Regions from separate parts of the Homo sapiens genome. Here regions 2 and 3 are each reported to be linked to region 1. The links are microRNA targets in miRTarBase. Many come from high-throughput screens and were not tested one by one. Region 1 holds a microRNA gene; each other region holds the end of a gene's coding sequence.
The links. The annotated mature microRNA hsa-miR-4751 reads AGAGGACCCGUAGCUGCUAGAAGG and lies in region 1 at 1,740-1,763, shown strand. An mRNA with a match to its seed (bases 2 to 7 or 8) in the 3' UTR can be bound and repressed. Matches are read on the target gene's strand: a 7mer-m8 pairs with bases 2 to 8, a 7mer-A1 pairs with bases 2 to 7 and ends in A, and an 8mer does both.

Region 2: miRTarBase lists CD207 as a target of hsa-miR-4751. Seed matches in the 3' UTR shown: 7mer-A1 at 1,976-1,982.
Region 3: miRTarBase lists JPH1 as a target of hsa-miR-4751. Seed matches in the 3' UTR shown: 7mer-m8 at 2,142-2,148.

Annotation. Positions count from the first base shown.
Region 1 is chr19:49,931,334-49,935,910 of GRCh38, forward strand. MIR4751 (microRNA 4751) reads left to right here and starts at 1,731; the gene lies at 1,731-1,804. It overlaps ATF5 (activating transcription factor 5), which reads left to right. Exons shown (of 3, transcript NM_001193646.2): 3 at 1,089-2,602. The coding sequence ends at 1,759.
Region 2 is chr2:70,828,540-70,832,327 of GRCh38, reverse strand. CD207 (CD207 molecule) reads left to right here. Exons shown (of 6, transcript NM_015717.5): 5 at 509-627; 6 at 1,128-2,117. The coding sequence ends at 1,278. Among named protein-coding and RNA genes, the nearest start is that of CD207, 5.4 kb to the left of the region's middle. RefSeq lists an enhancer at 616-1,815.
Region 3 is chr8:74,234,689-74,238,476 of GRCh38, forward strand. JPH1 (junctophilin 1) reads right to left here. Exons shown (of 6, transcript NM_020647.4): 5 at 2,520-2,615; 6 at 12-2,347. The coding sequence ends at 2,535. Among named protein-coding and RNA genes, the nearest start is that of JPH1, 85 kb to the right of the region's middle.

The sequences.
Region 1 (4,577 bases):
AAGTAGGTAACATGTTGACTGAGGCATAAATGATGGGAAGGAAGCCAGGCATGATGGCCTGTAATCCCAGCACTTTGGGAGGCCAAGCGGGGAGAATTGCTTTAGTCCAGGAGTTCAGGACGTGGGCAACATAGCGAGACCTCATATCTATAGGAAAAAAAAAATTAGCCAGGCATGGTGGCTCACGCTTGTAGTCACAGCTACTTGGGAGGCTGAGGTGGGAGGATCGCTTGAGCCTGGGAGGTCTAGGCTGCAGTGAGCCAAGATGATGCCACTGCACTGCAGCCTGGGCAACAGAGTGAAACCCTATCCCTTAAAATAAAAAAAAAGTAGGGAAGGAATGAGGAAAACACCCAAGGGAAGAGCATTTTAGTTGGAGGGAACTGTATATGCAGAAGCCCTCAGGAGGCAGGAATCATTTCATTCATTACTGTATCCCAAATGCTTGGCACATAGTGGGTTTTCAATAATTAATGAGTAAAGATGAAACAAGGCATATGTGCGTGTGTATCTGTGTGTGTAATGTGATCTAGTTTGCCTTTTAAAAAGAGAGAATAGAGACACCACAGATACAGAGTACTCGGTAAAGGAGATGTTGGAATGGTTGAAGAAATGCTTGGTTGACTGTTGCTTGAGTCATTGGTTGGTTGGCTGGTTCTTTTTTTCTTTTTTAATTTTTTTTTTCTCCTGGACCCTCTTATGGGTTAAGACTGATTCTTTCATTGGCTAATTTGTTGGGTTTTGGTTAACTGGTTCATTGGTTGATTAATGGGTTGATTGGTTGGTTGACTGATTTATTTGGTTGGTTGACCGATTCCCTGATTGATTGGTCGACTAGTTCATTGGTTGGTTGGTTGGTTGGTTGGTTGACTGGGTGGTTAGATGGTTGATTGTTGGTTGGTTCGTTGACTGGTTTATTGGTTTCTTCACTGGTTTGTTGGTTTATTGACTGGTTTGATGATTCAGTGGTTAGTTGTTTTACTGAATGAATGGGACAGATGCACCTGAATGAGACGTGAGTCAGCACCCAACTACGCAGAAGACCAGCAACTCAGGGAATTTTGTGTCCCTCCCCACTTTAATCCCAGGTGATGGCTTCTCTGACTGGATGACTGAGCGAGTTGATTTCACAGCTCTCCTCCCTCTGGAGCCTCCCTTACCCCCCGGCACCCTCCCCCAACCTTCCCCAACCCCACCTGACCTGGAAGCTATGGCCTCCCTCCTCAAGAAGGAGCTGGAACAGATGGAAGACTTCTTCCTAGATGCCCCGCCCCTCCCACCACCCTCCCCGCCGCCACTACCACCACCACCACTACCACCAGCCCCCTCCCTCCCCCTGTCCCTCCCCTCCTTTGACCTCCCCCAGCCCCCTGTCTTGGATACTCTGGACTTGCTGGCCATCTACTGCCGCAACGAGGCCGGGCAGGAGGAAGTGGGGATGCCGCCTCTGCCCCCGCCACAGCAGCCCCCTCCTCCTTCTCCACCTCAACCTTCTCGCCTGGCCCCCTACCCACATCCTGCCACCACCCGAGGGGACCGCAAGCAAAAGAAGAGAGACCAGAACAAGTCGGCGGCTCTGAGGTACCGCCAGCGGAAGCGGGCAGAGGGTGAGGCCCTGGAGGGCGAGTGCCAGGGGCTGGAGGCACGGAATCGCGAGCTGAAGGAACGGGCAGAGTCCGTGGAGCGCGAGATCCAGTACGTCAAGGACCTGCTCATCGAGGTTTACAAGGCCCGGAGCCAGAGGACCCGTAGCTGCTAGAAGGGCAGGGGTGTGGCTTCTGGGGGCTGGTCTTCAGCTCTGGCGCCTTCATCCCCCTGCCTCTACCTTCATTCCAAACCCCTCTCGGCCGGGTGCAGTGGCTTATGCTTGTAATCCCAGCACTTTGGGAGGCCAAGGCAGGAGGATCGTTTGAGGCCAGGAGGTCAATACCAGCCTGGGCAACATAGTAAGACCCTGTCTCTATTAAAAAAAAAAAATCAACCCTTCTTCCCCACCAAACCACCCAACTCCTCTCTACTCTTATCCTTTTATCCTCTGTCTCTGCTTATCACCTCTCTTGCGTATTTCTGGATCTCCTTCCCTCCTTTCTCGTCCAAATCATGAAATGTTTGGCCTTAGTCAATGTCTATGCCCGTCACATAACAGCCGAGGCACCGAGGCCCACAGGGAAGCAGCTGGGAGCTTGGAAACCTGGTCTCTTGAATTTCAAACCTGGTTTCTTACAGGTGGTTGTCTGGGGTGGGTGGAGTGGCGACAGGATAGAGCTGAAGGACTATGCAAATGAGGAAGTAAGTCAGGGCGGGCTTTGAGAAGGGGACCCATATCCTACAGGCAAAAAGCAGGCTAGGTGACCTTGGGACACTACGCTAAGGGAGGGAGGCTAAAGGCGGCCAGGTTTGCAGTGCGGGAAGATGAGCAGGCCAGTGGGAGGAGGGGCAGGGCAGGGCTGTAGTTGGTGACTGGGTGTTCATTTTAGCTCTAAGAAAAAAAATCAGTGTTTCGTGAAGGTGTTGGAGAGGGGCTGTGTCTGGGTGAGGGATGGCGGGGTACTGATTTTTTTGGGAGGTTATGAGCAAAAATAAAACGAAACATTTCCTCTGGCTTGTGCATCTTGTCTTTGAGAGAAGCAGCTGGGGAGAGGCGGCCTTGTAATCTCAGCACTTTGAGAGGCTGAGGCGGGCAGATCACCTGAGGTCAGGAGTTCAGGACCAGCCTGACCAACAAGGTGAAACCCCATCTCTACTGAAAATACAAAATTAGCTGGGTGTGGTGGCGTGTGCCTGTAATCCCGGCAACTTGGGAGGCTGAGGCAGGAGACTCGCTTGAGCCAAGGAGACGGAGGTTGCAGTGAGCCAAGATTGTTCTATTGCACTCCAGTCTGGGAAACAAGATTGAAACGCTATCTCAAAAAAAAAAAAAAAAAAAAAGGGGGGGGGAGGTGGGGAGGGCCGGGCGTGGTGACTCACGCCTGTAATCCCAGCACTTTGGGAGGCTGAGGTGGGCAGATCACGAGGTCAGGAGATTGAGACCATCCTGGCTAACACGGTGAAACCCTGTCTTTACTAAAAATATGAAAAATTAGCCGGGTGTGGTGGCGGGCGCCTGTGGTCCCAGCTACTCGGGAGGCTGAGGCAGGAGAATCACTTCAACCTAGGAGGCAGAGCTTGCAGTGAGCCTAGATTGCGCCACTGCACTCCAGCCTGGGCGACAGAGCAATACTCCATCTCAAAAAAAAAAGAAAAAGACAGTAATAAAGATAACAGGGTGGGTGCAGTGGCTCACGCCTGCAATCCCAGCACTTTGGGAGGCTTTGCCAGGTGAATTGCTTGAGCCCAGAAGGTGGAAATCAGCCTGGATAACATAATGAGACCTCATCTCTACAAAAAATAATTTTTAAGAAAATGGCTGGGTGCTGTGGCTTACGCTTGTAATCCCAGCACTTTGGGAGGCCAAGGTGGGTGGATCACCTGAGGTCAGGAGTTCGAGACCAGCCTGACTAACATGGTGAAACCCTGTTTCTACTAAAAATACAAAATTAGCCAGGCATGGTGGTGGGCGCCTGTAATCCCAGCTACTTGGGAGGCTCAGGCAGGAGAATCCCCTAAACCTGGGAGGCGGAGGTTGCAGTGAGCTGAGATCGCACCATTGCATTCCAGCCTCAGCAACAAGAGTGGAACTCCATCTCAAAAAAAAAAAAAGAAAAAAAATTAGTGGGTGAGGTGGTGTGCACCTGTAGTCCTACATACTTGGGAGGCTGAGGCAGGAGGATCGCTTGAGGCCAGAAGTTGGGGACCAGCCTTGGCAACATAGCAAGATGCTGTCTCTACAAAAAAAAAATTAGGTGGGGCCGGGCGCCTTGGCTCAACGTCTGTAATCCCAGCACTTTGGGAGGCCGAGGCGGGCGAATCATTTGAGGTCAGGAGTTCAAGACCAGCCTGGCCAGCATGGTGAAACCTCATCTACTAAAAATACAAAAAAAATTAGCCAGGCATGGTGGCGCATGCCTGTAGTCCCAGCTACCTGGGAGGCTGAGGCAGGAGAATGGCTTGAACCCAGGAGGCAGAGGTTGCAGTGAGCTGAGATCACACCATTACACTCCAGCCTGGGCAACAGAGCAAGGCTCTGTCTCAAAAAAAAAAAAAAAAGAAAAGAAAAAGAAAAGAAAGAAAATTAGCTGGGCGTGGTGGCATGAACCTGTAGTCTGTAGTTCCAGGTACTCAGGAGGCTGAGGCGGGGGGATTGCTTGAACCCAAAGGTTGAGGCTGCAGTGAGCCATGTTTGTGCCATTGCACTCCAGCCTGGGTGACAAAGCAAGAACCTGTTAAAAAAAAAAAAAAAAAGACTGGGCACAGTGGCTCATGCCTGTAATCCCAGCACTTTGGGAGGCTGAGGTGGGTGGATCACGAGGTCAAGCAATGGAGACCATCCTGGCCAACATGGTGAAACCCCGTCTCTATGAAAAATACAAAAATTAGCTGGGCATGGTGGTGCACACTTGTGGTCCCAGCTACTCAGGAGGCTGAGGCAGGAGAATTGCTTGAACTCAGGAGGCAGAGGTTGCATTGAGCCGAGATCG
Region 2 (3,788 bases), not on the chromosome of region 1:
TCTAGAGCCTGAACCTTGCCATCTAACTAGTCCTAGCAGCTTGGGTGGAATACCCAACTTCACTGGGCAAACTTCACTGGCCCTCACTTGATGAAACATGCATGGTGATGGCACCTGCCTCAGAGGAAAGGAGAGAATGCATATGGACGACTCAGCACAGTGCCGTATGTGGATTCAGGGCTCATTTAATTCAGGTATTATCATATGAACCATTCTCTTGCGGTCCGTGCTCTGGAGTTCAGCTGAGGCCTTCCTGTGCTTCAGCACCTGCTTCCTGAGTGGCAGAAAGGCTTGAGTCCTGAGCTTGTTAGCTGCAGAGCAGGGACACATCATAATCTGGAAGATGAAATCTGGGCTCTGGGCAAGGGCAGGAAGAAGCTTGAGAGGCCAGTTTGTGCAGCGCATCTGTGGGTCAGGGCTGTCACTGAGCGCAGGTGAAGAACACCCAGAGACAGATGATCAAGCTCCAAGTGTGGCCGCACCTCTGCTTATCCTGTCTTTCCTACAGGAGTTTCTGTATAAAACAGCGGGGGGACTCATCTACTGGATTGGCCTGACTAAAGCAGGGATGGAAGGGGACTGGTCCTGGGTGGATGACACGCCATTCAACAAGGTCCAAAGTGTGAGGTAAGCCCCTGGAGCCCTCCGTGCCAGCCTGACTTTCCCCGGCCATGGCCAGGGCATGAAGGGAGTGGGGGCGATGTTCCCCATGAGACAGGGTTTCTGATTCTTCCCTGTCTTAGAGTGACAGGAACATTGCAACCAAGATCGAGCACAACCCTGTCACCAACTGGCTGTGGACCTGAGCCCTCCACGCCCTCTGGGGTTTGGCAACAAGGCCTTCTACCTGGCCAGCTTCAGGGATCTTGTCATGAGTCTAGGTCTTCACAGTGTGGGTTTGTGTAGGGACTTGAAAGTGGTGGGTTGGTTTGGCCTGGACTTGGGGCATGTGAAAGCTTAGAGGTCGAAGTCTCACCAGTCCCCTTCCTCTGAGGCTTGGGTGCAGACATTTGCTATGCCATTCCCTAGGACAAAAGCTTGGGTTGAGTTAACTCATTTCTTCACTGGAAATAAGTTCTTTTTGATTTTCCACTTTGTAAATCCATCTTTTTCCCCGCTCTTGGTAGGTTCTGGATTCCAGGTGAGCCCAACAATGCTGGGAACAATGAACACTGTGGCAATATAAAGGCTCCCTCACTTCAGGCCTGGAATGATGCCCCATGTGACAAAACGTTTCTTTTCATTTGTAAGCGACCCTATGTCCCATCAGAACCGTGACAGGACAGGCTCCCAAGCTCACTCTTTGAGCTCCAACGCTTGTTAAACATGAGGAAATGCCTCTTTCTTCCCCAGACTCCAGGATGACTTTGCACGTTAATTTTTCTTGCTTCAAAATTGTCCCACAGTGGCATTCTGGAGTCCGTCTGTCTTGGCTGGAAATTCTCTGACGTCTTGGAGGCAGCTGGAATGGAAAGGAGAATTCAGGTTAAAGTGGGAGGGGTGGGTAGAGAGGATTTAGAAGTTCCAATTGCCCTGCTAAGGAGGATCAAGACCCGTAATCCGGCATAACACCCTGGGGTTTTCCACTCTTTCAGAGAAACCTCAGCTTCATCACATCAAAGTTACTCCAGAGCAACCAAGCAATTCTCCTGATATTGTCATCCAGGGCTTTTCTTGGCCAAACCCCCTAGAATTTCCATGTCTCTGCTTAGCTGTGCTGGCAGCTAGCAGCTGGCTGTGTTTGCAGTGCAAATAGCTCTGTTCTTGGAAATCCTGCTCATGGTATGTCCCCAGTGGTTTCTTCATCCACATCATCTAAAGCCTGAACCCGTTCTTCTCTGGTTCAAGTCAGTGGCTGACACGGACTTGTATCTCCTTCAGAGCTCGGCTGGCACCCAGCCTCCCTTCTCCTTCCACTCCCTTAGTACACTGGAGTGCCGAGCCCTGCCTTCCACCCAGCGTCCATCCAGCCCCTGTCCTCACCTCTCCGGCACCTCCTCCTCCTTCTGCATTTCCTATCTTCCTGTGTCTTGTGCATGGGAAGCAGCCTTCAGTGCCTTCATGAATTCACCTTCCAGCTTCCTCAGAATAAAATGCTGCCTGGGTCAAGGACTCACTCCAAGTGCACTTTTTCATTTCTGGTTGTCCAGGTGAATATGTGGGAAAGGCAGTCTCCTCTGGTGGACATGAAGTTCTAGGGTATCCTCAGGAAACATCTGGGGAGTCAAAAATAACAAGGACTGGGGAAGTTCCAGTCCTGGAAATGCCACAAAATGTGACCAGTACTTATCTCTAGTTTTTATTAAAGTAGAGCAAGGTCTCCAATGTCACGATCTTGGTGATCTTTCTTCTTGTTTACTGCACAATCTTCTAGTCTATAGCTCAATTCCCAAGAACAAGTCTCAGCAGGTTCCCCACTCTTCACAGAGACCCAGTTCCACAGGCATCAGTTCCAAATCCCAAGTCCAGTGGCTGAAGCTGGAATCCAGGCAGCAGCCACCACAGAGAGGAGAGGAGGGTGGAGTGAGCACAGGTCTTCATTAAGGTCCTCAGGAAAAGATGCTTCCTTAAATAACTGTAACCAGCAGTGTGTTGTTCTGGGTGCAAATGGGTCACAGCTGAGGGCACAGGCTTGTATTGTAAGACCTGAAATACCACGTGCTGCTGTGACATTTTATGCCTCACAGGGCCCCAAAGACCTAACCCTGAGTTCCCTGCCTCTCACCAGATATATCCTTGCCCTCGGTCCCCACCTGGCTAATTTCCTATCATCTGGACCAGCTGCATGCCACCCAGTTTTCTACTTAATGGGTTTCACTTCTCTGCCAGCCTGAGAAACTATTCAAACAAGCCAATCACATCCTCCTACAGGAATCCGGGGCATCTCATCCTTTTATTACTACAAGGCCTGCCTCCCACAGCCCTGGCTGGTTCACTCTGCTCCTGAGGGTGACCCCATGTGGCCCTGTGTGGCTTATGATATCTTTCCCCAGTAGACTGTATTTGTGACTAGTAAACTGCTGCCAGTCTCACCTGCACAGTGTCAAATGTCTTGTTTTGGCCATCTTGTCCTATTTAGAGCAGGGGATCCCTCCCTCACCAATGGAGGAAATGGGAGGTGACAAGAACAAGGCTGGTCGGGGATCTCTGGTTGGTTTTGGCAAAGAGATGAGCTGGGAAAATCAGACCATTTCTCTGGGAAAGAATTTGAACCAGGAAATAGCAAGAGGATGAGGCTGTTAACAAAAGGAAGTTGAGCTGGAAGGCACTGAGTTAAGAGAAAGGCTGGAGGGGCCGTCACGTGGCATTGGAAGAAACTAGCAATGAGCAGAAGCTATGAGGCAGGGGAAAGACATGAATACAGGCCTGGCATGGTGGCTCATGCCTATAATCCCAGCACTTTGGGAGGCTGAAGTGGGTGGGTCACCTGAGGTCAGGAGTTCGAGACAGCCTGGCCAACATGGTGAAACCCCATCTCTACTAAAAATACAAAAATTAGCCGGGCATGGTGGTGGGCACCTGTAATTCCAACTACTTGGGAGACTGAGGCAGGAGAATTGCTTGAATCTGGGAGGCAGAGGTTGCAGTGAGCTGAGATCCCACCACTGCACTCCAGCCTGGGCAACAGGGCAAGACTTTGTTTCAAAAAAAAAGAAGTGACTGCAGAGGATTATAGTTGGCAGAGAAAAGAGAACGGCTCAGAGGAGTCGCAATGGAGGTCCCGGAGGGCAGCCTGAAGGGCTCCGGCTGCTCCCGTTCCCAGGGCTGCCTCAGATCCTCCCAGCCCT
Region 3 (3,788 bases), not on the chromosome of region 1:
ACACCTCCAACTTCATTAATAACCAACTTTTTTTTATTAGAGCAGATACAGTTGTGAAAACTGTACATTATACATTTTGGTTTCAAGAATTATAAATAAAGGAACTCACAGGTAGGGAGTTCTTTTTCACAGCAAGAAACTTTAAATAAACAAAGTCATGTTTTATTAAGTACATTGGCAGACTTCATGTGCTGTCCAAAATGTTGAGTACAGTATAACAACCCATTAGAAAGAGCCTTCATGTAAAATACAGCTGTGCACATTTTAGAAAAATACCAACAATTTGAGCTTTGTTTTAAAAAAGCTTATAAATCATACATATATTTATAAATGGGACCAACATGCTCACTTTATAAACATATCCTCTCGCTATCTGTTACCCATTATTTCCAAAGCATTACGCATTTTAAATGAACACTTAATAAGATTAAATATTTTATTATTATTTTTTTAAAAAACCAGCTTTCCCAGCGTAAGGAGCTATAGGGTTTGGGAGGGGCAGTGAGAGTACTGAGAGTGACGCAGGAACTTTAAACATTTGTTCTCAGGTAAAAACGGACTTCCTAAATTTAAAAGTCAAAGCAAAATGTAAAAAATGAATATACAAGTTGAAATTTTTCATTTGCTCTCTTTCTGCCTTCTTCTTTATTCCATATTGGTCACACCCAGGATTTTCAACATATTGTGCTTCTGTAAGAAACATCACTGGGTTACTACCCTGCAGGTGACAAAGCACTCAGTCCACATCTGTGCTAACCAGGGAATTGTGTGAACTGTCTCTTCTCCATTGAAAAGGTAGCTAATATGGTGTAAAAAAAAAAAAAAATCTGATTAAACCATGCAAATCATGAAAATATTTAGGAGTAGCTCCCCCTCTGCAATGTAATGTTTTATAAAGATTTAATAGATTAGATAGATATCTTTCTTCCCCTGATTTCTTTTTAAGTAATTACTTTTATAAAGACCATTTAGTTTCTATAAGTAAGCATGCTTCTGAATAACAAAGGGTAAATTATAAAACAGCAAAAATCCAGAAATGTCAGAATGACAAAAGACTGTAAAAGACACATATTTAAAATAAAAATGTCTAAGCCTTTAAAATGTGAAATGAAATTACAAAAGGACTTTGAAAAACAGGAAAGGCAGAAAACTGAGAGGCAGTGATTGAACAAGGCTTTATGTTCTACCTGAATGTATTCAACAGAAATTTAAGTTGGAAAAAGAAAACAAGAAAGAGCAGAGCAGTTTATTAATAGCATCTTGCTTAACTTTCATGGGAATTAACACAGCCACCGACAAGATTTTATTTGGTTGTAAAGTACGTCAGCAAAGAAACTGAATCCTTTAAACACTGATTACTGCAATCCATGCAACGTTTGGACTATATTTCTTAGAATTCTGTTGTGTTTCAGCTTTTAAAATTTAGCACTTCCTAAGTGCATAAATAATTCACCTCAGTAATGTTAAAAATATTTAGAATTAAATTAGTTCTTAGGAAGGCATAGTGTCTTCAAATTGCTAAATTTTAAAGATAAATAACCTTTTACAAGTATAGGAAGAATAAATGACATAAAAGATGGTATATTGCTATCAAAATAAGCACATTTTCACTAGCATTTTGTTGTTTCTTTTCCTTGAGATGCAACACGTGTGTTTCGTCCGGCCAGGACCGCAGGTGGTAGATGACTATACGTCAGATTTAAATAAACAGCAAAAATGAACAGAGTCGTGCACAAGCAAACGAAACGTTCTCTCCCAGAACATTCCAGGAGATGTTAAAGCAGCAGGTCATGGCATAAGACTGGTGAGTGATGCTGCTACCTATTTCTTCTAATGAGATAGGAGTGAATGTTGGAACCACGTCCACAGCAACACAATCCTCCGACCGCATTCCTCGGGCAGTCGTTTCCCCAGCTCCCTACTAAAAACGTCAGATGGTAAAATAGTAAGGCAGCTGTTGACTTCCATCAAAAAAAAAAAAAAAATGCAGCTCCATACATTTCCAGTTTAGTCACACTCTGCTAGGACAGATGGAGTAGCCAATGCCAAGAACTTCGCCGGATGGGGCTGCTTCAGCAGATTTTAAAAAAGAATTATTATTAAGTTTTGCTCTCCAACATGGCCGTGTGCTTCAGCTCCCAGAGGACCCCAAAGCCACAAAGCACTCCCAGGGGAACCGAACAGGTCCTCTGGCTGAATTTTCCAAGTTTCATCTCTCTCGCGATCCCATCCTAATTCCAAGCCTCCTTCCCTGTGTCTGAGTCTGCCTGGGGTGGGCCATTTAAAGGGCTGACGGCACCACTGCAGAGAACTGTGGGCTAACACACCACTAGTTGTCAGGACTTCACTGAAGGGTCAAAACAGTTATAGCAATTAAGTAACTATGTTGAATCACATTCAGGCATAGCCAAAATTAAAGTGAAGGACAATACGTCATTGTTAAAAAAAATAGCAAATTTGCATATGAGAAAAGAATGTTATTTACTATGATTTTAGATAGAAATTAAGGCGATTCTTACCTTTCCTAATTCCAATCAAGTTAGAAAGTGAACAAAAAGAATGGCCAACCCGATATTCAACAGCATGACAAGGACAATCATGATTGAATTAGGGCCCTGAAAATGAAAGAGAACAAAGTAACTATAACTTCTCCATGTTAATATCAAGATATTACCAAAGCCAATTACTGAAAAAATGAGAAAGTTAACATGATTGCAGTAAATAAGGCATAAAAGATGACAGCAGTTCGGAAAGGTGTAGACTAAAAACGGCAATGCTATGTTTAGATGGAGACATTTCAGAACCTTCACTTAAAAATGAATCCAGGCTTGAATTAGTTTAAAAACGTTTTAAACAACTGATCCACTTCATTCACCTCAAAACAATGGACAACAGCGTGTGCTGAGACACAGCTCACCCTAACAGGGCCTACGAACGGCTGGGAGTTAGACGTGCATTTGTTGTTAGAATGCAGTTCAGATGAGGAAGAGCTGCTTCCTCCACAGGGCAGTTAGAACACGAGAGCAAAATCTGTAGGACAAAGCCACCTCCAAGGAACAATTCAGGGAAAACTCAAAACGAGGTTCTCTACCTCTTGCTTTTTCCCTGGTCCTCTGTTTGGACACCACCCTTTCCGTTAAGTAAAAGCTGTAAGTGAGAAGTTGGATACTTTCAGAAGTTATCTTACAGGCCCAGCTTTTCAAATTTCTCTAATCACAACCACAACATTTCAGAAATGAAGTTATATTTTACAAACTATGGGATCCTATTTTGATAAATATCATTATAATAAATACCAGATAGTTGTCCAAGGGCCCCAAATTTTTACTTGTTTAAACAAACCAACCTCATATAACCCATCTTTTCAGATCTGCTCCATGAAGAAGCCACCTTTATTACAAAGACATGATTGTGGTATTTACTGTTAAAATAATGTCTAATTCTTATATAGCATTAAAAGTATTCTAAACTGGCTTTATGAGGTAGGTAGTTTTATTGTCCTCATTTTACAGAAGAGGAAACAGTGGTACTCCATTTGGATACTGGGTAAGACTACACTGAAACAATGTTACAGAGGCCTCAAAAGTATTGATGTTTTTTGGGTGTGGGGTAAGTGAATAATGGAGATTGGAGCTGTCATTGGTCAAACACTAATCAATTCGGGTCTAGGGTTTGGGTCACACATCATTGACTCAAGAAGGTCTCTTTCCCTGACTGAGCCCACATCTCCGTGGTAGAGGTCAGAGTGCCCTGCTCTTTCTCTATCACAAGGCGTTTCACACTTGATT